Regions from separate parts of the Homo sapiens genome. Here regions 2 and 3 are each linked to region 1. Evidence: fine-mapped expression QTL. A gene starts in region 1. Each other region holds a variant in brackets. All regions are shown on one strand. Distances are between the middles of the regions. Region 1 holds the start of CKAP4 (cytoskeleton associated protein 4). Region 2 has its middle 19 kb from the start of CKAP4. Region 3 holds the start of TCP11L2 (t-complex 11 like 2).

The links.
Region 2: its variant is fine-mapped to the expression of CKAP4 in whole blood (TOPMed, PIP above 0.99).
Region 3: its variant is fine-mapped to the expression of CKAP4 in whole blood (TOPMed, PIP above 0.99).

Annotation. Positions count from the first base shown.
Region 1 is chr12:106,243,888-106,252,067 of GRCh38, reverse strand. CKAP4 (cytoskeleton associated protein 4) reads left to right here and starts at 4,048. Exons shown (of 2, transcript NM_006825.4): 1 at 4,048-4,699. The coding sequence starts at 4,217. LOC124903008 (a long non-coding RNA gene) reads right to left here and starts at 3,796. Exons shown (of 2, transcript XR_007063443.1): 1 at 3,309-3,796; 2 at 1-2,397. RefSeq lists silencers at 3,473-3,812, 3,843-4,152, 4,813-4,902.
Region 2 is chr12:106,224,462-106,232,641 of GRCh38, reverse strand. No RefSeq gene overlaps it. Among named protein-coding and RNA genes, the nearest start is that of CKAP4, 19 kb to the left of the region's middle. The variant C/T (reference allele first, on the strand shown) is at 4,887.
Region 3 is chr12:106,298,193-106,306,372 of GRCh38, reverse strand. It overlaps TCP11L2 (t-complex 11 like 2), which reads right to left and starts at 3,640. Exons shown (of 10, transcript NM_152772.3): 1 at 3,432-3,640. RefSeq lists enhancers at 3,573-3,712, 3,723-3,802, 2,977-3,862 and a silencer at 3,883-4,002. The variant C/G (reference allele first, on the strand shown) is at 3,573.

The DNA of each region.
Region 1 (8,180 bases):
ATGCAAAAAGCCAAGAGGGCTGCAGGCTTACAAAGCTTGACCTTATAATTTATGGTGCATGTGGTATGAGGGAGTTCTGAGGCATTTTTACACAAGCTGGATGAAAGGATGAGATGTCTCCAGCTCCCCCTCTTCTCCGCCCACATTCCTGACCATCCAACACACTTTAGCAAGGAAAAGGGATAGAGGAAACAAAACTAGGAGGAAAAGCAGAAGAGAAACTCCTCTAGATTCATGCTGTGCTCAGAAACTGGGGTAGGAGAATGGAAGTCTCCAGGAAGAGCTGTTGATCCCTTCCTGCTCTGGAAGATGCACTTCTATGACTGCCCACCAGCCTCCTCCTCTGGGTGTAACCGAACACCATGGTGGAGCCACACTTCAGAGAAACACACTGCTTGCTTTTAACGTTAAACACATCCTAGCCTGTGGTTTGTGAGCCACATATGGTCCTGGGAGCCCCACGAAATAATGATGAAAGAAAATCGTTGAAATCTGGACACAGAAGCTCTCTGAAGCTATACTTTTCCTCAGTGACTCTGCAAATTGTATTAGCTGTCCAATATTCACTGAGCATTGCCATATGCCCAGTATCATATGGTGTCTCTTGTCTAATCCGCATAACAGCAAGGTTGTTCTTTTTTTTTGGGTGGAGTGCAATGGTGAACAGGGCTCACTGCAGCCTTGACTTTCCAGGCCCAAGTGATCCTCTCACCTCAGCTCCCCAAGTAGCTGGGACTACAGTCACACTCCACCATGCCTGGATAATTTTTTTTTGTATTTTTTGTAGGGACAGGGTTTTGCCTTGTTGCCCAGGCTTGTTTTGAACTCTTGGGCTCAAGCAGTCCATCTGCCTCGGCCTCCCCAAGTACTGGGATTATAGGTGTGAGCCACCACACCTGGCCTAGTGAGGTAGCAATTACTCCTGTCTTATAGCTGAAGATACTGAGGTTCAGAGAGGTCACACTCCAAAGTCAGTCATGGAGCTGAATTTGAACCCAAGTCAGTCTATTCTATAGCCTGTGTCTTAACCATTGTATGTACTATCTCCCAGAGGAAAAGAATGAGAGGGAAATGCTGAAAATATTAACAGTCCCATCGTCCTACTCTCTATTCATTCATTCAGTGCTCAGTAGAGGTAAAAATTGAGAAACCGTCCATTCTCATATCTGGCCTACAGTCTGCTTTTTTTTTTTTCCTGAGACAGGGTCTTGCTCTGTTGCCCAGGCTGGAGTACAGTGGTGCCATCATAGCTCACTATAACCTTGAACTCCCAGGCTCAAGCGATCCTCCTGTCTCAGCCTCCTGAGTGCCACCACATCCAGCTAAATTTTTTTTGGTGGAGTCAGGGTCTTGCTGTTATCTAGGCTGGTCTTGAACTCCTGGCCTCAAGTGATCTTCCTGCCTTGGCCTCCCATAGCGTTGGGATTACAGGTGTGAGGCACTGTACTTGGCCTGGATCAATTTTTAAAAATTTAAATATCATTTAATTATTTTTGATAAGGATCAGATGACTATTTCTCTAAGAAACGGATTAATAATAAGACAGGTCCTTAAAGATGCACCTTACAGAAAGGGTGACCCTGAAATCTAGAGGAGTTTAGGGATACTTCTCAAGGTCACACACTTTGGTAGCACTAAAGGAGTAGGGCTCTTGCTTTCAAGGCCAGATCTTGGCAGCAAGCTGCTTTACCAGTTATCACTGCCTCTGCCCCTAACATGGAGAACTGCTTGAAGGGGGATAACCTCTTTTTGCGCGCTAGAGATTTTAACAACACAACCCGAACTCAGCTGAATAGTTTTTAAACAAGGTTCCTGTGATGAGTGTCTTCTGATTTCTTCTGCTGTCTCCCCGCGCCACAGGTCAGAGACCTGTGCCCTGTTGAACCTAGAGGCTCCTACAATAGCTCCTGGTATTTAGCTGAAGTAGGGTGTTCCTCTCTGTCTGGGGCAGATGGTTGTATTTCTAGTCCAGAACCTGCTATAATTTACTCTGTCCTCCCACACTAATAGCGATTCTTCTATCTGCCAGCTTGGCTTCTATAGCCTTCTGCAATCTGGACCCGCTCCACCCAGTTCATCTCTTTCTTCTCTACATGTAGAACACACCCTCATGGCCAACAGGTGTCCTGGGCTCACCCCATTTCCGCCACAGAAATATCCTCCCTGCTCTCCTCATATGCAAATCATTCTTCAAGGCACTGCTCAAGGTCTTTCTGCCCCCAAAGCCTGCCCATGTACAGGCCAATGGTTTGCTTTCCAAATCTCTTTACATTTATGTTCCCAATTTACCTAAGTTAGCCCTCAACAGGTTTCTGTATATATCTCCAAGTGTAGTGCAGGCTCCTTGAGGGCAGGCACACAAGTGTTCATTCATTCACTGGAGGCTTTTAGCAACACCTTATAAAGCGAGAAAGAAGGAGAAATATAAACTATGGTTGCTTCCAGTCCTCAGGGAGGGGAGACATACCTGGCACACAGTGGGCCCTCAACAAAGGTTTGCTATATTGAACTAACATATATGCCTCTCGTTGCAATTACTTGCTAAGTCCCATGAGAGGTATCAAATGGTGTTATAGGGAAAGCATCATCAAAGAGGTGGCATTTGAACCCTATAGGCTTTAAGGGCAGGGCATGGTTTTGTCTTTGTTTACAGAACTGGGAGGAGGTTACAGACAGAAGAAACAGCATTCCTACTACACACAGTGCCAGGTGCACACAGTGCCAGGCACACATCACTCACCAGAAACTGGGGAAAGCAGTGGAATTGAGTGAGTTCTGTCCCTGCCCCGGCACCAATTAGACTGAGTGAGTGGGCAAGTTGCTTAACTTCCCTGGGCCCCCGTTTCCTTCCCATTCTGAAGTGATTAAGCTGCACAGACTTCAGAAAGAAGCAGACTGAGTGAGGTTCGAATGATGACTATATGTGACCTTGAGCCAATCCGAAGCCGGCTCGCTCAGTCTCAATTTCCTTCCTATAAAATGGGTAAAATAATTTCTACCTCACAGGGCTTTTGTGAGATTTCGAGAACATATGTGAGTCGCTAACCACACAGCCTGGCAATACCAGATTTCCTTTTACAAAAGTAGGGGTGACAACGCTGATCTGCCTCTTTCTGTGTGGCTGCTGCTGCCTCCGCAGCACCCATCCCAGAGGCTGTCAGGAGTAGGGGCCGTGGACAAACTTCATGACCCCGAAAGAGAAAACAGAGCTGAAGGGGCTTCGGGGGGAAAAAGTAAAGAGCTGGCCACAGCAGGCTAACTTGGCTAACGGGGACACTTGGTGAATGCGTCCCCTTGAACAGACTTACCACAGTCGAGAATCTTTGCTAACTCGCATCAACCATGCCTCCCAAGCTGGCTGGATTTTGGACAGCCTTTTTTGTCTCCGCCTTCAAACCCAAGGCAAAGGACAAGGCCCAACCCCATGGCGGGCTGGGAGAGTGAAAGCAGGGGGAGTCCCCCAATTCCCAGCGGAAAGGAAGGGCGATCTGTTCCCACCCGCTGACTCCCACTCCCGGGGCCAGGGCTCCTTGGGCGCCCCCCTTCATTTCTCTCCTCTCCGCACAGGTCGGGAAGGGAGGGGGTCGCGCTTGGCCCGCGGCGCAGGTTCACCCCGGCTTTCGTCCCTCCGACCCCGCCTGGCCGCCCATCCCCGACCCCCGTGGACCCTGCTCGGCCGCCCCGGCTGGGGTCGATCTGGCCCTCCGCCCCCAGCCTGCGTGGAACCCGCCGGGCCGCCAGCCCCACCTCGGCCGCGTCCCCTCCCCTCCGCTCCGCTCTTCTCCCCTCCCCTCGCGGCCACCTCGGTGCCCACCCCGGCCTCCGCAGACCCCGCCGGGACCCCGCCCCGCGCCCAGCCACCCCCGCGCCGGCTTCCCGGCCCCCGTAGACCCCGCCCGGCCCTCCCTCTCCGGGGTCGTGGCGGCGGGGAGGAGGGGCCGCCGGGCCGGCGTGCGTGGCAAGCTCTCCCGGCTCGGCTCGCTCGGCCTCCCTTACCGGGAGGCGGGGTCGGCGCCGCGGCGGCGGAGGCAGGCCCCCTCCTCCCGCCTCCTCGGCCCGGCCTCCTTCCCCGGCCGCGCGTCCTCTCGCCGCTCCGACGCCAGCAGCGCCCGCGTGCCGCTCGCCCAGTCCCGGGGGAGCCCCTGCAAGTTTCCCGGGCCGCGCGCCGCGCTCGCTCGCCTCCCAGCCCGCGGCCCGAGCCGCCGCCGCGCCCGCCATGCCCTCGGCCAAACAAAGGGGCTCCAAGGGCGGCCACGGCGCCGCGAGCCCCTCGGAGAAGGGTGCCCACCCGTCGGGCGGCGCGGATGACGTGGCGAAGAAGCCGCCGCCGGCGCCGCAGCAGCCGCCGCCGCCGCCCGCGCCGCACCCGCAGCAGCACCCGCAGCAGCACCCGCAGAACCAGGCGCACGGCAAGGGCGGCCACCGCGGCGGCGGCGGCGGCGGCGGCAAGTCCTCCTCCTCCTCCTCCGCCTCCGCCGCCGCTGCCGCCGCCGCCGCCTCGTCCTCGGCGTCCTGCTCGCGCAGGCTCGGCAGGGCGCTCAACTTTCTCTTCTACCTCGCCCTGGTGGCGGCGGCCGCTTTCTCGGGCTGGTGCGTCCACCACGTCCTGGAGGAGGTCCAGCAGGTCCGGCGCAGCCACCAGGACTTCTCCCGGCAGAGGGAGGAGCTGGGCCAGGGCTTGCAGGGCGTCGAGCAGAAGGTGGGTACCCCCGGCCCCGCAACTGTCCCCATCGACTGCGGCCTCCGGACCCACGGCCGGGCTCCTTCGTGCTTCCCGACCGGCCCCTAGCGCTGCCTGCCCAGGCCCGGAGGCGGGAGCCGGCCGCTCCTCCTTGGCGGGCCCTGGCCTAGACATCCCACTCCACGCGGCCCCCTAGTTCCGAGGCAGTCCCCAGACCCCCTTTGTTAATGGCTGCGGAGGAATCGGCCCCGAGGGATGGGCCGCCGCGAGGATGCCCAGGCCCGCCTGGCAGGGTGGGCCAAGGGCCTGTCACAGGGCATTAGCGGTGACCTGTAAGGAAGCCGGCAGGCTCCGGGGAGCCCATTCTTTCTGCATTAGGAACCGCTGAATGGGCAGAGCTGTCTGAAAAGGAGGTTGGAAGGGAAGCCAGCGCATCCCTGGAAGCCTCAGGCAAGGCCCCACCTCAGCTCTGCCTGTGGGAGACATCCGAGCGGGGTTTTTAATAGACCCGGAGCTGGCATTCTTACTCATTTGCAGGTCCAAATGAAATACCATCTATCTTTAGGTCCCTTGTCCTGTATTGGACCAGCCTGCCCAGGTGGGCCTTTGACGTAGTCCTACTTCAGCTTTTTTGGGTTTTCTTTTGAGAGGGAGTCTGGCTCTGTCGCCCAGGCTGGAGTGCAGTGGTACGATCTCAGCTCACTGCAACCTCTGCCTCCCAGGTTCCAGCGATTCTCCTGCCTCAGCCTCCTGAGTAGCTGGGATTACAGACATGTGCCACCATACCCAGCTAATTTTTTATTAGTAGTAGAGACAAAGTTTCACCGTATTGGCCAGGCTGGTCTCGAACTTCTGACCTCAAGTGATCCGCCTGCCTCGGCCTCCCAAAGTGCTGGGATTACAGGCGTGAGCCACTGCGCCCGGCCCTACTTCCGCTTTAGGGGAAGAGGAGGGCCAAAAATACTAGATCATACTGGTGAATAATACTTCTAGCCACATTTATATGGTGTTTAGAATGCTTACTCACTCACATATTATCTAATTCTTATAACTACCCTGGGAGGGAGGACTAACAGTTTTGATTTCATTTCCCAGAGCAGAACATTGAGGTTTAGACAGAGGAATGAGTTGACAAAGTCCCCAGCTGGTGAGTGACAGACACACGAGAATGTCTAGGCCACTGCCCTGTTCGTCAAGGGTCCACAGGGGTCCATTTCAGGTATGGATGGACCCAACTCTCAAGGCGAAGGTGCTTAGCTTCCACCCTTCTGTGGTTTTTCCATACCAAGTACAGCCCCTTTGATCTTATTCGCCCTCCACTATGTCATTGCTCAATGAAAGTTGGTTGCAAGACTGAAACAAAAAATCCCGCCACTTCTGATCCCGGAGCCACTGCCTCCTTTTCCCAGCATGCTGTCTGTCCTGCCAAGTTGCTCTCTGCTTTTGTTGAGTGTGCAGGACCAGGAATTTCCTCTTAAGACTGGCAGAGCACGGCCGGGCGTGGTGGCTCACGCCTGTAATCCCGGCACTGTAGGAGGCCGAGGCGGGCGGATCACCTGAGGTCAGAAGTTTGAGAGCAGCCTGGCCAACATGGTGAAACCCTGTGTCTACTAAAAATACAAAAATTAGCGGGGTGTGGTGGCACATGCCTGTAGTCCCAGCTACTCAGGAGGTTGAGGCAGGAGAATTGCTTGAACCCGGGAGGTGGAGGTTGCAGTGAGCGGAAATCCTGCCAGTGCACCCCAGCCGGGGCAACAGAGTGAGACTCCGTCTCAAAAAAAAAAAAAAAAAAAAAAAAGACTGGCAGAGCAACTGGAATGAGTCAGCCTGCTAAACGCTGCAGGCCAAGGGAGGTGACTTTTCTAAGGGAATTAAGTAGGCAGTGCTGCTTTGCCTATCCTGAATGTCAAACCATTCTTAAAAAATAGACATACTGCTGGAGTATAATGACTAGCCTCTGTTTCTTCTCTTTCATCCTCCTACTTACTAGTCAATCATAATATTTATTAAAGTCTGACAGTTGCATGGCTCTGTGTAGGCTTTGTGGGAGGGTATGAAGGAGCAAAAGACACGAATCACTTGTGCAGCGCATAAGGAGGTGTCAGTTGAGGGTAACTCCTGTGAAAGTTCAGAAGAGGGAGGGTGTGGAATTTCGCCTGTATCCCGGTGGCCAGGGTAGTGCCAGCCATCTAGCTGGTGATCGATAAATGTTGAGAGAAGGACTGTGATGAACACCGTGGCAGGGGCACTATTTTGAGCATGTTTGAGAGAGAGGAGGTGGCTACCCTGCCAATGGCAGAGTCACATGTAGGAAATTGTGAGAGAGGGTGGGTTGGAAGTTGAGGCCAAAATAGGGAAGGTCTTGAATCCAGGTTAATTCTCTGTGCTTCTCCCTGCCCCTCACTTAGTCCCTTCTTTTTGCTTCTCACCCCTTCTCCATCACAGCTATGTATATAGATCACTTTCTTCTTTGGGGCTCAGTTTTCCCACCCACACAATGAGAAGAGGGCTCCATCCAGACTTTTAAGAATCCTCATGGCTCTAAAATAATTGAAATAGTGACTTCTCTGTTTTTTATTTCATATTTTATATTTCGTAGAGACAGGGTCTCACTCTGTCACCAGGCTGGAGCGTAGTGGTGTGATCATAGCTCACTGCAGCCTTGAACTCCTGGCCTCAAGTGTTCCTCTTGCCTCAGCCTCACAAGTAGCTGGGACCACAGGCATGCACAAGCACGTCCAGCTATTTATTTATTTTTAAAATTTTTGGTAGAGACAGGGTCTTGCTGTGTTGCTCAGGCTGGTCTCAAACTCCTGGGCTCAAGCAGTCCTCCTGCCTTGGCCTCTCAAAGTGCTGGGATTACAGATGTGAGCCACTGCGCCTGGCTGACCACTTTTCTTTTAATTTAGTAGTGTAATCAAACTATAATTTAATGTGTCATATTTATGGTGCACTTATTACGTGCCAGGCACTATGCAAAGCATTTGAAAATGCATCATCTGCTGACTCTCACAACAACCCCAAGAGGTAAGTACTATTATCAGCCCTCTTTGACAGATGAGAAAAGTGAGAGGCTAAGTAACTGAGCGGTGATATAGCTAGTTAGTGGCTGGGCTAGGATCCAAACTGTTGTCTAACTCCTGGAACACTATTAACCACTCCACTATTTAGCCTAGTACATAGTAGGTGCCCAATAAATGTTCCATTGACTTGAGACTCAGAACATGGCCAGAACAGTGTTAGATTTGCCATAGAATGTGGCCACTCTGTCTGTATCTTTGGGGTGGCCAGTAAATAAATTATTTTGCATTGAGGAACCAGTTGTGTTTGGTTCTCTGACAGCCTAAGTTTGAACCCTTTTATAACTCTTGGTTACTTGTTGGGGGGTGGAGTTTGGTTCATAGCAGGGAAGTATACTTACAGTATTCATAATTACTGTTCACTATGGGTCAGCCATGCTATTAAATGCTTTATAGCCATGATTTCTGTTCTCCCAGCC
Region 2 (8,180 bases), 19 kb after region 1:
AGATCGGGACCATCCTGGCTAACATGGTGAAACCCCGTCTCTACAAAAAAAATACAAAAAATTAGCTGGGCGTGGTGACACGCGCCTGTGTTCCCAGCTGCTTGGGAGGCTGAGGCAGGAGAATTGCTTGAACCTGGGAGGCAGAGGTTGCAGTGAGCCAAGATCACACCACTTGCCCTCCAGCCTGGGCGACAGAGTAAGATTCCGTCTCCAAAAAAAAACAAAAAACAAAAAACAAAAAAAACAAAAAACCGCACACACACACCCACACAAAAACACTGATTGCAGGTCCCAGAATTTCCAAGTCAGGATGTCTGGGGAGGGACCCAAGAATTTGCATCTTTAACAAGCTCCAGATAATTCTGATGCTGCTGGTGAGGGGATTACACTTTTGAGAACCACTAGGGCAGAATTAGAGAGTAAGACTAAAATTCTATGGTGGCAGGTGTATTTATTTCTACCTAGAGGAAAAAGATGAAGGAGCCGGAAGCTATAGCCCAAAAAGAAATATAAAAAGTATATTTATGAGTGCCATCTCAATTTTTTTCATAACAAGGCTGGGCATGAATGAATTCATTAAATCATTTTTTATTTCAACATAGGTGCCAGAACGACACAGTCATTTTCTAGACTTTTTCTTGTATATGCATTCATGTAATTTGCCACCTAGATAATAATAATTCCTAAATCCCTATGCCTAGCTGAGACCATACCTCTGAGCTACTAATCTGTTTTTCCAATAATATCTGGACACCTTGCTGCCCCCTAACACCCTCGGAAATCTCCCTCGGATCCAAACTGAAGTCATTTCCCCTCGAAGTAAATGGCACAGCTGGCCCCTTCACTGCTTAAGCTAGAAGCTCAGGAGTCACCCGTTGTCTCCCTGTTTCTCCCCTTTCCCCTCCCTCCACTTCTCCTAGGGTTGAGGCCTTGACACATCCACCTCTGTCCCCTCCTCCCAGCCTTTTGGGTTCCAGCAGCAGCCGCTCCCCACGATGCTCTCTGCTGGTCAACTGAGATCAGAAACGTGGTCCATGCACTCAGTATCCATTCAACAATATTCAGAGAGCGCACACTCTTTGCCAGACTAAGGAGATTACTTTATAGATATGGTTCCTGCCTTCATGGTGCTCATGATGCAGCTGGGAGGAGACATACAGGACAATGTATTATACACACTGCAGTATATGCTTGAGGGACAGGTACAGCCTCCTAACTGGCCTCCCTGTCTCTAGCCTGGCTCCCATTCAGGGAATCAATCCTCCATGGGTGACCATCGTTCTCTTTCTCAAAAGTAAATCTGCCTGTGTCCCCTCCCTGCGAAATCCCTAGGCTCTCCCCTTGGCCTCAGGAGCAGCCTGGCTCTGGGTCGTGGCCAAGAAGGAGCTTTCCGATTGCTCTGTCTTCCTGCCCTCCAGCCTCCTCTTCTGTGAACTCTGTTTGTAGCCGCCCTGATTAGCATAACTACCCCTCATGTGGCCCCTGGTTCTGTCACTCTTGGTGCCTTTGCACGTTCCCTGGATCCTTCAACCCAAACCACAGGCTGAATTTGGGAGCTCCTCCCACGAGAGCCCACACTCCAGGCTTCTTGTCTTCAAAGTGCTCCTCTGTCTGTATCATGACCGCTTGCTTCTGGTGTGTTCCACATGAGAATAAGGCTCTGTCTTTCATCTCTGCATCCACAGAGATCATTGTGCTTGGCCCACATCAATAATAACAGAAATAACTAAAATTTATTGAGCATTTACTATGTGCCAGACACTGCTCTAAAGGTTTTACGAGGATTATCTCATTCAATCATTATAATAGTCCTAAGGGTAGGTACTATTGGCCTCTCCATTTTACTGATGGGGAAACTGAGGTACAGAGCGATTCAGTAACTTGGACAAAGTACTTCCTAGTCATAGCTAGCAAGTGGGGTAGCCAGGTTTAGAACCCAATAGCTTGAGTTATTAGGTTGGTTCAAAAGTAATCGTGTTTTTTGCCATTAAAAGTAATGGCAAACCATTACATTTTAATGGTAAACCATTAAAATTTTGTACTGCTCTAGAACTGGTTTCTTTTCTTCACTTAAAAAGACATCACTGTTTGGGATTACTTTTTGTTGAGGTGCAACTTTGGTGCTTTAAGGCACACACATCTGAAATATATGGCTGAATGAATTTCTGCACACGATATCTCCATGTACTCACTACCAGATCAAGATATGCAACTTTTCCAGCACACCAGGGGCTCCCCGTGCTCCTCAGTCAATACCCTCTAACCTAACCACTATTCTGCTATCACCATAGAATATTTTGCCCATTTTTGAATTTTGTAGAGATGAAATCATACCATATAAGACTTGGTATTTCTTTTAAAAAATGACAGCTTTACTGAGATAAAATTCACATACCATAAAGTTCACCCTATTAAAGTGTACAGTTGTTTTCAGCATATTCACAGAAGGCTGGAAACATTCCTATCTGGATGAATCTTGCCCAGCCATATATTAAAAAAAAGTGTGAGACATAGTAGGTGTTCAATAAAGGGCAGCTGTTTGAGAACATACTGACTTCTGAACTGGACACTGCATTTGTCCTGATGGTCAGTAACTCAGAGAGAAAAAGAGAGGGTGAGGTGTAGTGGACGTTTTCTTCGTCATACCCCTCTGACTGGGTTCACAGAGGGAGGACCTAAAACCTCAGAGGCAGAGGGTTGAATTGCCCTTCCCCGTCTTCAGGATGTGTTTGGTCAAGGGATTGATTCCACCTACTGTCATTTATTATAAACTGGGTGCTGAGCTGCATTTGCTCAGCGGAGATGAGATGAAAGATGAAGTCTTCCTCTTTGAGAGGCTCCCAGCCAAACAGGGGACACAGACATGTAAATGGCACCATAATCACATGCAGGGTGACCTGTGCAGCGGTCAAGGGACCACATGAGGACTGCTGGGTCCTGGACATGTGTTGTTGCCTGCCCAGCATCCAGTCCTCCTTCATTTGGTGACCACTTCTCTGTTTTCTGTTAGGGAATCACCCCTTCCCCACTCTCAGTCCATTTGGCTTTGATGAGACTGACTGGGCTGAGTGCATGACCCAGGTTTGGCCAATCAGAAATCTGGTTTGACTTGTGCAGGAGGAATACAGGTCGCCATCCAGTCCATTGACTACTGCTGGAACTTTCTGGAAAGGGATGCTTTCTGCCCACCGGGACTGCCAAGCTGGATAAATGCCCAGGGCTGCTAAAGGCCACCACATGTGCAGAGTCCACTGAGAATGAGGCCAGCATAGAAGAAAACAGAACCAAGAGTCGGCAAAACACAGGTTCCTGAGGACATAGTTTGAACACCCAGGTCACTTGTGCTAGAGGCCATGTGTGTCTCCACAGAGCCCCTGAACACCACTGTGTCCCCTTTCCTGCGCACAAGGCGACATGCAGCCGTGGAGAGAATGGGCACAGCAGCGCCGCTTACGAAGAAAGAAAAGTGGAAACACCGAGAAAGTAGCTACAAGATCAGTAAATCCACTATCACTTGTTCATACAATAGACCTCAAAACGACAACAAAAAGGAAGAAATCCTAATCTCATATATCGTGGGGATGAATCTCACAACTAAAATGCTGAGTGAAAAAATAAGCTGCAGACAAAATACACAGTGTGACACTTCAGAAATTCCTTAATTCTTAAAACTAAGACATTTTACCGTGTAAAATAATACTATACATTGTAGTGAAAGTACCAAGAAATGACTAGGAGACCGAATATCCAAATTCAGATCATTTGATTTCTTAGGCTGAGTGGAGGCTACCTAAGTATTCATGATATCACTCATAATACATTTTTTCTCCTTTCAATATTTTATTATGAAAATTCAAACAGCAAAGTTGAAAGAATTGTCCAGCGGACACTCATATATCTACTACTTAGATACTATAATGAACACTTTGCTATGTTTGTGTATCACATATATATCCATCTCCCCATTTTTACAATTTTTTTGAACAGTGTCTTGCTCTGTTCAGAAAAATAAAAAAATATGGGGAGATGGTATATATATATGTGATATATATACGTCCAGGCTGCAGTGCGGTGGCCGATCTTGGCTCACTGTAGCCTCTACCTCCCCAGCTCAAGTGATTCTCCCACCGCAGCCTCCCAAGTAGTAGCCGGGACTAACAGGCGTGCACCACCACACCCGGCTAATTTTTGTGTTTTTGTAGAGACAAGTTCTTGCCTTGTTGCTCACTCTGTTCTTGAATTCCTGGACTTAAGTGATCACCTGCCTTGGCCTCCCAAAGTGCTGGGATTACAGGTGTCAGCCACCATGCCTGGCCTCCCCATATTCCTGATATCTTTTCATAGGTCAGAAATATTTTGTAATTAAACTTTTTTTTTTTAAAGGGGAAGAAACACATAGAGAAAAGCTTATACTTTTAATAGTTAAACTAGTACAGGTCAGAAAACAAATGACGCCTACATATATTACGTGAAGTGCTGCATTTACGCATGATTACTTTTCATAGTAATGATAGCTAAGTAGCCATGTGACAGGCCTTAGAAAGCTAAGGCTGAGAGAAGGCTCTAATCTAATTCTGTTGTTTTACAGATGGGGAGGCTGAGTCTCAGAGAAGTTGTTCACCCAAGCTCATACACTAACTGGCTAAGAAGACAGGGCCTAATTTCTTCTCTTATCCCCCACAATTTGTTTTGGCTCCAGGCCTAAGCACAGATGCAAAATGCTCAGAAGTAAGCGAAGAATCAGGGCAGTTGAGTTGCTGCAGGCAGCAAAACCCACTCTTGGCAGGAAGGGGTGTGGCAGCCTGGCCTTGCTGTGCAAGCCCCCGCGTGTGGCAGCGAACACTCAGGAGCAATACCTGTTGGGTAATGGGGCTGTGGGGAAATCC[C/T]GGCCTGTGTTCAAATAGCTGGTGATGTTGTGTTGAAAGAGGCATTACCAACTGGGTGTGGCTGCTGGTGTGAGGACACATCCTGTCCCACAGAGTCCTTCATGGAAACTCAGAAGGCTAGGTCTTTTTGTTTTCTTCCATTCACGGGTATGATCTTGGTTTGCACTCCAGGACGGAGTTCTCACATGGTGTGACAAGAACAGCAGGGATGGGGGAAGTCACCTGGAATCAGGACTCTGGTCCGAATGCTGGCCTGCCGGGCTGTGCTGCCTAGGATAATTCACTTTCCTTCTCTGGGCCTCCATCTGTTTTCCCATCTGAAAAGTGAGGGGAGATAAAGTAATCTTCATGTTCTCTTCCAGATCCAACTTTCCTTGACTTTAACCATTGCACAAGAGTCTTTTGGAGCCTCGGGTGGGCAGGAGGAGGCCTAAGGGAAAAAGGACTAGACAGTGAGCAGATCTCTAGGGGCCAGGGTGGCTTCTGTCTTAACCAAGGGTCTGTTTGTAGCTCCCATGGGGGCCGGCACACACTGGGTCACAATTAATGTTTTCTCATTTATTGGGGTGAAATGGGGAATGTTGGCCGGGCCGGGCTGACATCTTGGATAACCTCATGTGAAGACTATTCACTTTCAGAAGATGCCGGGATGCACCAGTAAAAAATCCAGAGCGGCTCAAGCCCCTGAACTTTCAGCTGGGGAATAGCCCCAAATCAGCTGACTGTGGCAGTAGGAACCCAGAGAACATAATTGAAGTGAGAATTTATTGCCATCTAGTGTCAGAGTCAGGGATCACAGGAATGATTTCTTCATTTTTCGCTCTTGTTCCAGAAAGGGGATAAAATCCAATTGTACCATTAAAAATACCAGAGAAATCCACTATTTAAAAGACCTATGTGTGTATTTCTCTGTGACATGAATGCTTTTGTAATGTGTATACTATCCTACTAATTAGCCCCTTTTGAAAACTTAGGTAATAAAGGGTTTTGTTTAATATGAATCTTTTGTTAGTAGAAGTTTAGATACCGAAAGACCTTTATCGTTCCTATGTCAAGCTAGTTAAGAAGTGCGCAGTGGCTCACGCCTGTAATCCTAGCACTTTGGGAGGTCAAGGTGGGCGGATCACGAGGTCCGGAGATCGAGACCATCCTGGCTAACACGGTGAAACCCCATCTCTACTAAAAACACAAAAAATTAGCTGGGCGTGGTGGCACGTGCCTGTCATCCCAGCTACTCGGGAGGCTGAGGCAGGAGAATCGCTTGAACCTGGGAGGCGGAGGTTGCTGTGAGCTGAGATCACAGCACTGCACTCCGGCCTGGGCAACAGAGTGAGACTCTGTTTCAAAAAGGACAAAAAAAAAAAAAAGTGCAAGTGGCGCCCTTTAAATAAGGCAAGTCAAATGTTGGATGCTTAGTCCTTCACTTAAGTAATAGTCACCCATAATTGTGTTTTGTGTTTGATGTCATGCTTTAGGTGGAACACATTTATCATCTCGCTTACCCTGACGATTATCCCAGGGAGTAAAAGTGGTTGTCTCTGATTTACTGATCAGACACTAAGAAATGGTCATTAATTTGCTCTGGGAGCACGCAGTCTGTGGTAGCAGCAGGACTCGGACTCTGTTTGTCTCTAATAAGGCCTGCTTTTTGTCTGTTAAACCATACTCCCTTTCCCATAGTAATAAAATCAGCTTCCCATAATGTCCCAGGATACAACTATGTACTTGTACTGTGTGTATAGTACTGGTGGTTAAGACACTGGGTTCTGGCCAGGTGCAGTGGCTTGTGCCTGTAATCCCAGCACTTTGGGAGGACAAGGCAGGCAGATTGCTTGAGCCCAGGAGTTCGAGACCAGCCTGGGCAACATGGCGGAAAACCCCATGTCTACAAAAAATATAAAAATTAGCCGGGTGTGGTGATGCATGTCTGTAGACCCAGCTATTCAGGAGGCTGAGGTGGGAGGATTGCTTGAGCCTGGGAAGTCAAGGCTGCAGTGACCCATGACGGCAGCACTGCCCTCTAGCCCAAGTGAGACCCTGTCTCAAAAAAAAAAAAAAAAAAAAAGATAAGAAATTGGATAAGTTGAGTTTTTGAGCCTTACTATTTGAGTTCCCAGCCATGGCATATTCTATCTGTCTGACATCGGGACAGTTACTTAAGTGCTCCGTGCCTCAGTCTCCCCACCTATAAATGCAAATGATGCTAATGATAGTGCCTACTTCATAGGGTTGTTGTGAGGCTTACTCCATCTGAGGTGCTTAGAACAGTGGCCATGACAGTGAAGTGCTCAATAAATAGTACTTAGAAATTGACTAAATGCAGGGAATTTGAAATGCCAGGCTTGTGAAATGAGCCCTTCTATTGTTGGCCTGCAAAATGTGAGTTTAGAATTTTTTTTTTGACAGGGTCTTACTCCATTGCCCAGGCTGGAGTGCAGTGGCATGATCATAGCTCACTTGCAGCCTTGACCCTCCGGGCTCAAGCGATCCTCCCGCTTAATCCTCTCTTGTAGCTGGAACCACAGGTGCACACCGCTACACCTGGCTCGTGTTTTGATCTTTTCATAGAGACAGGGGTCTCACTATGTTGCCTAGGCTGGTATCAAACTCCTCAGATCAAGTAATCCTTGCACCTCGGCCTGCTGAAGTGTTGGGATTACAGGCATGAGCCACTGTGCCCCGTTGAGTTTGGAATTTTGATTATGAGTGCCTTCAGGTGGGCCTGTGTTTGATTGTGAGTGCCTTCAAGTGGGCCTGTGTTTGATTGTGAGTGCCTTCAGGTGGGCCTGTGTTTGATTGTGAGTGCCTTCAGGTGGGCCTGTGTTTGATTGTGAGTGCCTTCAGGTGGGCCTGTGTTTGATTGTGAGTGCCTTCAGGTGGGCCTGTGTTTGATTGTGAGGTCTTCAGGTGGGCCTGTGGCCTCTAGATTCTCACATTTCCCACCACTCACTTGTGTCTGCTTCTCCATTCATTTAGGCCTCCTGTCTGGCTCCTGGAAGCATTTGGTGTTTTGATCCTTGCAGTGAGTGAGATGAATTACATGGACATTGTCAACCTGATGGAAACTTTGGGCTCTTTGTCGACCTCTTTTAAGGGCTGTGACTTCATGGCTTTGTACATCAAAGAAGATCTTTGGGTTTTCTTGTGCAATTTGGCTTCTCCTGCCGAGAACAGAGGCTCTTCTAGCCAAGAACTAAAGCCCACCATGGCAGTCCCTCCCCAGATTCTTCTGCAGATGGCTACTTTCCTCCTAGCCTTCACGGGAAGGAACCGGGGCTTGCTGAGGTAAGGAGG
Region 3 (8,180 bases), 54 kb before region 1:
ATGCAAGAGAGAAAAAATAATAAAGCACATAGAGCAAAATGTTAATAGGTGAATCTGAGAAAAAGGTAGACAACATGGTATTCCTTATACTATTCTCACGACTTTATCTGTAAGTTTGAAAGTATTTCCAAATAGAAGGTTAAAAGAGAAGATGACAGGCTGAACTGAAACTTCAAGATTCAAATTCAGAACAGTCCAACCTCTTGCAGTTTTGAAATTCTGATTGTGCCCACTGCTGTGATAGCTTAAATACCACTCTATTACAAGAACTCTTCTAGACAGTCAAACTTGTCCTGATGTCCTTCTTGAACAGTGCCTAAAGAATAAAACAGGAAATAGGCCAGAGCCCTCCAGAAAAGGCAAAATAGATAATCCTTTTTAAGAGTTCATCCCTAGGTGGGTTCCCTTTTCCTAAGTCACTGGGCCATGGTTTACAACCCTCTGTGATCTTAACTCTGCCCACCTTATTCTGCAGTGTTCTCCCACTAACCCTTCATGATCTTCTTTGCGTTCCTCAGACATGCCAAACTTCCTATTTCGGGGCACTCATACCTGCTGTTCTCTGCCCCTGAAATGTTCCTCTCCCTGATCTCCTTGTGGTTGGCTCCCTATTGTCATTCAGATTTGAAATTTAATGTCACCAACTACGAGGTAACCTTCCCTGATTGCTACACTCACTGCATCTAATGAGCCAGCTAGAGCTTAGAACACCGCTAGGGCTAGAGCAGGAGCTCAGTGAGTACAGCTGCATGAACTAATTACGCCACACTCCTATTCATAAGACACCTTGAGTTTTCCTTCTTTTCTGCCTCACTCACATTACTCATATTCCCATTACGCAGTCACTTACAGTACTACACTTGTGTGCATATCTGTCTCCCACTAGATTTTAAGCTGCTGGTGGAAGCGATGACTCTCCTCTCCAATTCCCAGTGCCTACTTCAGTGCATTTGCAAGGCACCAAAAATTCAAACTAGCAAAGACCCACAGTTCCAGGAGGTTAAAGAAACTCACGTGTAGCAAATAACAACAATTACAGCTAACAGTAATTGAGTGCTTATTATTGAGGTAGTAATAAGCACTCAATAACTGTTCTATGATAAGTTCTTTATATATTTTATCTCCTTGAATCCTTATTATAACCTTGTTAGCTAATGTATCAGTATTATCCCCATTTTATAATAAGATCCTGAGGCCCAGAGAGGTTGCGTTACTTGCCCAAGGGTTCACAGCAGTGTAGAGGCACAACTCAAATCCAGGAAGCGGATCCCTAAAACCCATGCTCTCTACCACTCCAGTTTGGCTGGAGAAAATTTGGTGTGCTGCTCATTCTTTCCACTCCCACTCTGCCAAATCCATCTACCCATCACCCTGTGGACACTTGCACATGTGGTAGCAAGCTGATCTTATCCTGGTATGGCTGCTCAAGTGCTATTCTGTGAAGGGCATCACTGAAGGAGTACGTCACCCAAAACAATTCTTCACCACCCCGCTACAGTGACAGAAAATCCTCTAGGAGGGAGCCATTCTTTATGCACCGCAAAATCCCTAGTTAGACCCCACGTATTAGCAAAAAGGTTAACTGCTTACAGTCATAAACATTTTGGAGTGAAATATTCAGATTACCCAGCAGGGCCTTGAGGAATTGAACCCATCCAGTTAAGGTTAGCTCACGCAAAAAAGAAATTTCAAGAAACTTCTAGTGTGTACCATCCTTCAACACTAGATCGAGGTCAGCTGCAAGGACAAGCCTTCACATATGTGTAGTAAAGGGAAGGGAGTCAGAGGACTAAGTCTGGGCTCTAAAGAAAAAAATTGCAGATGATGTGAAAAATTTCCATCTTCTGCAAAATGCTGCTTTAGAATCAGTCTTAAATAGCAGCACTAAAGTTATTCATCCACAGCAAAGCAAAAACCATAGAGCAGAGGGATAGGGGCCCATACCATTCATCTAGACAATACTGGTCTTCATCAAGTTAGAACCAACAAAGAGCTAGATAAAAGCCAACAAGCCAGTCACTGTCCACAAAGCAGATGTTCACGTTACACGTGGCATTACAGCATCAGGGAGAAGGATTCCTGGCACTTTTCACATTTGAAAGCACTCCTCCCACACTTGCTGGTCTGTTTTGTTTTAATACCTGTGCTTCCCCCTCTGGGGCCCTCAACCTCTCACAAAATGGCATTGAAGCTGCTTCCACACATGACTGGGTATCTTCGGCCCTGGGCCTCTTCAAATCAGGCAACTTCCACTGGCTGTCAGGGTGATGCATGAAATCCCTAGAGAAGAGAGGAAAAGGACCACGGCAGGGAGCCTCCTCAAGTGGGAACCACTGAGATTAACTCATTATCCGTTGGCAGGTAAGAAGAGCAAAGTCCCTGACTGGGCTGGTGACCATGGGTGCTGAGACACCCACTGGGGACAAGGACAACTTGTCCAGTTTCTTCACAGTTAAGGTAGCAGGACAACCATCTAAGATTTCCCAAACTTAAGTCGTTTGAGTGCCACTCTTCATGACTATTTCTACGTCTCCCTCCTTACCTTTACTATAATTTAGTAACCGCGTCTCTATCTTGACTAGATTTTTGCATTTAAATATATTTATTTTAAAAGGAAACTCTATCATTGTGAAACTGCTTACTTAATGGAACAGATTTTCTTAATAGTAACGAAAACAAGTAACTATGTTCATCCATATGCCACCTCAAATCATTGCTATTACCCCCAGTGGTGCCACCTACAGTAGCAGCTTTGGGAAGCACAAGCAACACCTGAGGGTTCAGCGTTCGAGCCCAGGCCCAATCGGCTTTTCTCCACCTCTTCCCCTTAACCAAAGGTCCCGGCAAGGGGACGCAGCAGCAGTCTGCACGACCTCACCCACGTCCTCTGGCCGCCCCTCCCCTCCAGCAGCACCAGGTTTCCTGTCAAAACAAACCCTTGGGGGAGGGGACGGCGGAGGCAGAGCTGAGTGCCGGGGAAACCACGGCAACAAATCCCAAACACACGCTGCCGGGCCCGCCCTGCCTCTACCCTGGCTCAGTTCCCTACTCCAGCCCGGCCGAGGAGTGTGGGGGAAGGGGGTGCCCTGGGCCCCTGATGGCGGGATGCCGCTGGTACCTGTCCAGCAGGATTTAAACAGCGGCGAAGCGGCCTCCGAGGCCCGAAGTCCGTGTCCACCCCGACACGCGGGGCGGCCACTCGGTGCCCCGCTCCCCGCTCCCACGCGGGACGGCAGTTCGAGGTCAAACAAGGGGACGCGGAGTGGGAAGACATGAACTAGGAGCCGAGCTTGATGGCCCCTGACCCCGCCTTCCCAGGATGGAGTTCCGAGATAGGGCAGGGGAGCCTTCGGGCTGCAGCGGTGTCCCCTCCGTTGGACCTGGCCGGTCACCTCCGAGCCGGCAACGCCTCCCCCGTGATGGATACGCACCGGGTCCAGCACGTAGACAAGAGGAGAACGGCGACGGAGTGACCCCGGGTCAGGGCTCTCTGGGCGTCCCCTCACCGAGCACAGCACAGTCACCTCGAAAACTCACCAGCCCAACAAACCCCCCCAGCCCCAGTGTCCCCC[C/G]CAACGCGGTATTTAAAGGGCCCTGAGGGACTCTAGGGAGGCAGCCACGGCGCGGCCATCACAAAACCGGATAGCGGGGGGACGACGGCGCGACGGGGCAAGGGGATCCAGGGCCCTTCAGTCTCCGAAAGCCGAGCGCTCACAGACTGAACCTATTAGAGAAACAGTCTTCGTCAGTTTGAACCAGAGAGGCCGAGAACAGCTCGGATGGGAGGGTGTTTCGGATGCGAGAGGGCACGGTTCCCCCGCGCGGCGAGTGGTGCGGTCCGGGCTGCCGGGGGCGGGGTGAGAAGTGTTTACGGAACTGAGGCCGCCGAGCCGACGGGAGCGCCCGGCGTTGGGGGCGGGGCCTGCCAGGGCACTGGGGGCGGGGCCGAGTGGGGGAGCGGGGGCTGAGCGGGGGCTGAGCGGGGGCTGAGCGGGGGCTGAGCGGGGGCTGAGCGGGGGCTGAGCGGGGGCTGAGCGGGGGCTGAGCGGGGGGAGCGGGGGCTGAGCGGGGCTCTGGGGAGGTGGGCGAAGCCGCGGGCCAAGCCTCCAGTGGAGTGCCGGACAGATCCCCTGGGCTTCCAGGCGCACTGGCGTGGACCACACTGCGAGCTCCCGGCCGCGCGTGGAACATTGAGTGCCCGCACACCCCTGTCTAGACGGGGCAATCGGAACTGGGTGCCCACCAACACACTGTCCACACTTACAGAGACAACCCAACCAACAACGCTGCTGGTGGGCTTTCCCACGCACGTCAGCCACTAACCGGGTCATCTCCAGTTGCGTCTACACCTCCACATAAACACGGGTCTAGATTTGCACCTGCACGGGACGATTAGCTCCTTGGAGTCACACCCATCCAGGCCCTCTGAAGACTTGGCGTGCGTGCAAAAGATAAAGCGTCTTACTTCCTCTAGGGTTCTTGGCAGCACCTATCTCCGGGAGAAGTTTCCACCTTGGTTAATGTAAATAACCAGTCCCAGGAGGGCTCTGTGCCGTCTGGCCTGCTGCTCAGCTCCTGCTGTGGGCGTGCTTGAGGGTGTAGAGAAACAAGCTTCCCCCAACTGTTCACATCAAAACTATGCCTTCTGCCAGGTGTAAATCGGTGCTGTATTACTTGGGAAATAGTTTCATGCAGGAACTACTTACATGAAGTTTGTATAGACTAAAGTATTTCTGTTTAGTGCCGAAATTATGTCTGGATTGTGGAGGCAGATTGGCCACCACCGTTCAAAAACAACAACAACAAACAACAGGCAACATTTTAAAGCAGGGTAGAAAGTCAGTTGTTCAGTGGTTACAACACAGACTCCTCTATGGTTCCAGTCCTGGCTCTGACATTCACTATCCATGAGATCTTGGTCTCTGGGGATAACAATGATAGCTATTTCCTTGGGTTATTTTGAGGATAAAGTGAAATAAAGCATGTGAAGTGCTTAGCAGGGTGCACAGTAAGCACTCTAAGTATTAGTTATTGAAATTCTTTGGCAAACCACTGTGGCCAAACTTAGCTGGTGATCTGTATAAATTTGTATCTGTGCCTCCTTTTGCCACTTTCCTCTCTTCTCCTAAAATATACAACCTAATAATACAGGTTAAGAGATTAAATAGAAGGTGCTGTCCCCACCTGAGTTCTTCCCTACAAACATGCTCTTATTTGTGTCATTCGTTGGATAAGTAATCAGAATGACAGAAGCCTCCAATTTCAATTCCTGCCAAATGACAACCACCACACAACTGCCATCACCACCCTAAAAACTCCACAATAGAAAGATGAACACCCAAATCCCCCAAACTTCTGGTAATTCTGTGACAATGACACATGGCAACATTACTTCCTTTGTTAGCTTTGTAAGGATTTAAGTATTGTTTTGAGCTATGACATAAGTTGGAGCAGGTGACCATGAGTCAGGGTAGTTGTCCTTTATACTGGAGTGACCAGCTGCCTGATCCTAGGCATGACACTTCTTTTAAAGTTCAGATATGTAGCTCTCAAAGCCACCAGGAAAGCAGCTTTTGTCAAAGCAAGTTCAACTGTAACATCAGAGAACCAAGCTGAGATAAGAAAAGATGCTGGAAATACTATCTTCTGTTACTTTAATGTTAAATAACTTGCTATCTGAAAACCCTTCTGTGAATTACCTGACCAACTGCCCTTGGCCTGACTTGTGTATAAAAGCACTTTGGGCCAGGCACGGTGGCTCATGCCTGTAATCCAAGCACTTTGGGAGGCCGAGGCAGGTGGATCACAAGGTCAGGAGATCGAGACCATCCTGGCTAACACGGTGAAACCCCGTCTCTACTAAAAATACAAAAAAATTAGCTGGGCGTGGTGGCACGCACCTGTAATCCCAGCTACTCTGGAAGCTGAGGCAGGAGAATCGCTTGAACCTGGGAGGTGGAGGTTGCAGTGAGCCGAGATCACGCCACTTTACTCCGGCCTGGGCGACAGAGCGAGACTCCATCTCAAAACAAAACAAAACAAAAACAACACTTTGAAAAAATGGAGTGCTGTAAAATATAAGGCAGTTCCCTCAAAAATGAGCCTTGTATCACATTGTTGCTCAGAGGGCTCAGACAGTCATAACACAAAATCTTCCCTGCTCAGGTTATGTTTATGGCTTTCTGAGGAAAAAAAAAAAACAACAAAATCTGAAAAGGCAACCTCTTTAGAAGTAAAATAATTAGCATTTTATTTGAAGAAGACATATTATTACACCTAGTTTTTCTAACTTACCTTTTTGAACCACTTAGAGAACTCACAGTAATACAGTTTTTTTTTCTCCCTGTAAATTACACGGTAGACTAAATGTGGTCTATCACTCTTGGCAAAAGACTAAGGGCAGATCAAAATTTTTGTTCGATGAAGAAATAGAAATACTCATTTTCTTTTTACACATCTGAAATCTGAGTTTTAAATTATAATAAATCATTGACAAAAATCTAAAAATGTAATTACAGTTGGATTTGCAACCTCTCAGCCTTATAACTTTTCTAGTGGAGTTGCATATTGTACTGATTTAATGTAATGCAAATTTAGCTATACGGGACTCATCTAGGACAGAATATGAGGAACACAAGAGAATAATTTAAATACTTCCAGTGATCTTGTCCCCTATTTCTCTCTATGGGAGTTGTGAGGCTTCTCTTACTGTGTTTATCTGAGTTTCTGAGCTTCTCATTATGTTCCAAGCTTCTTTCCCACGGCTGGCTTCATGTTCGTGCAGTCTGGGCAGTTGCACAAGGCCCCACCCTTGGAAGAGCCCTGTGCTTGGTTTAATACATTGCTGCTGTTGTGTTGAGATTCTTAATACTGTGCTTTTTGAAAGGGGGCCTTGCATTTTCATTTTGCACTGGACCTGGCAAATTATGTAACTGGTCCTGATCTCCCCACACAGAATATGAGTCTAGTGGTTAAAGGTGCTTATCTTCCTGCCCCTAAGTGCCAATCAATTATTTCAACCAGTGCTCACTTGAAGAAACTTATGTCTGTTTCAATGCTGGAAGAAAAGAAATAGCCCCAAACAAACAAAAAACGACAAAAACTTGGTGTATCCCAGGTCTTATGGCTCATTAAAAAATTTTCAAGAGTAATTTTCACTGCACTTTGACCTCATGGTCTTCCTTAAGAGCCTAACCCCTCCTGTAAGATGTGACTCCATTGTAATTGAAAAAAACAAAAACAAAAAGCAAAAAAATGGGCTGGGCATGGTGGCTCAGGCCTGTAATCTCAGCACTTTGGGAGGCTGAGGTGGGTGGATCACCTGAAGTCATGAGTTCGAGACCAGCCTGACCAACATAGTGAAACCCTGTCTCTACTAAATACAAAAAATTAGCCAGGCATGGTGTGCATACCTCTAATCCCAAATACTTGGGAGGCTGAGGCAGGAGAATCACTTGAACCCAGGAGGCAGAGGTTGCAGTGAGCCAGGATTGCACCATTGCACTCCGGCCTGGGCAACAAGAGTGAAACCTGGTCTCACAAAAAAAAATGGCCGGGCATGGTGGTTCACACCTATAATCCCAGCAGTTTGGGAGGCCGAGGCAGGTGGATAACTTGAGGTCAGGAGTTTGAGACCAGCCTGACCAACATGGCAAAACCTCATCTCTACTAAAAATACAAAAAATTAGTTGGGCGTGGTGGCACACACCTGTAATCCCAGCTACTTGGGAGGCTGAGGCAGGAGAATTGCTTGAACCTGGGGGGCGGAGGTTGCAGTGAGCTGAGATTTCACCACTGCACTCCAGCCTGGGCAACAGAGCGAGACTTTGTCTCAAAAAAAATTTTAAACTAAAAATTAAATTAAAAAAAATGTTTTTCAAAGGAATCCCACTTCTTTTCTCTCCCCTGTCCATCTTCAGGTGCTACAGAAAGGGCCAAAAATCAGTGAGGGGGAAAATACAATAGAAAGCAAAAAGAAGAAAATGAATTTGGCTAATACACCAACTAGAGAATTAGGCCCTGAATGTTCAAAAATTAACTGCATACCTCCTACTCAATTTTACTGTGAGCTCTAAAAATAAGGTCTATTAAAAAAAATTAACCACACCTTTTAGGCAATTTTTTTTTGTTCTATATCCTGTGATTTGGAAGATAAGGTAGATTTAGATAATTGACCAGTT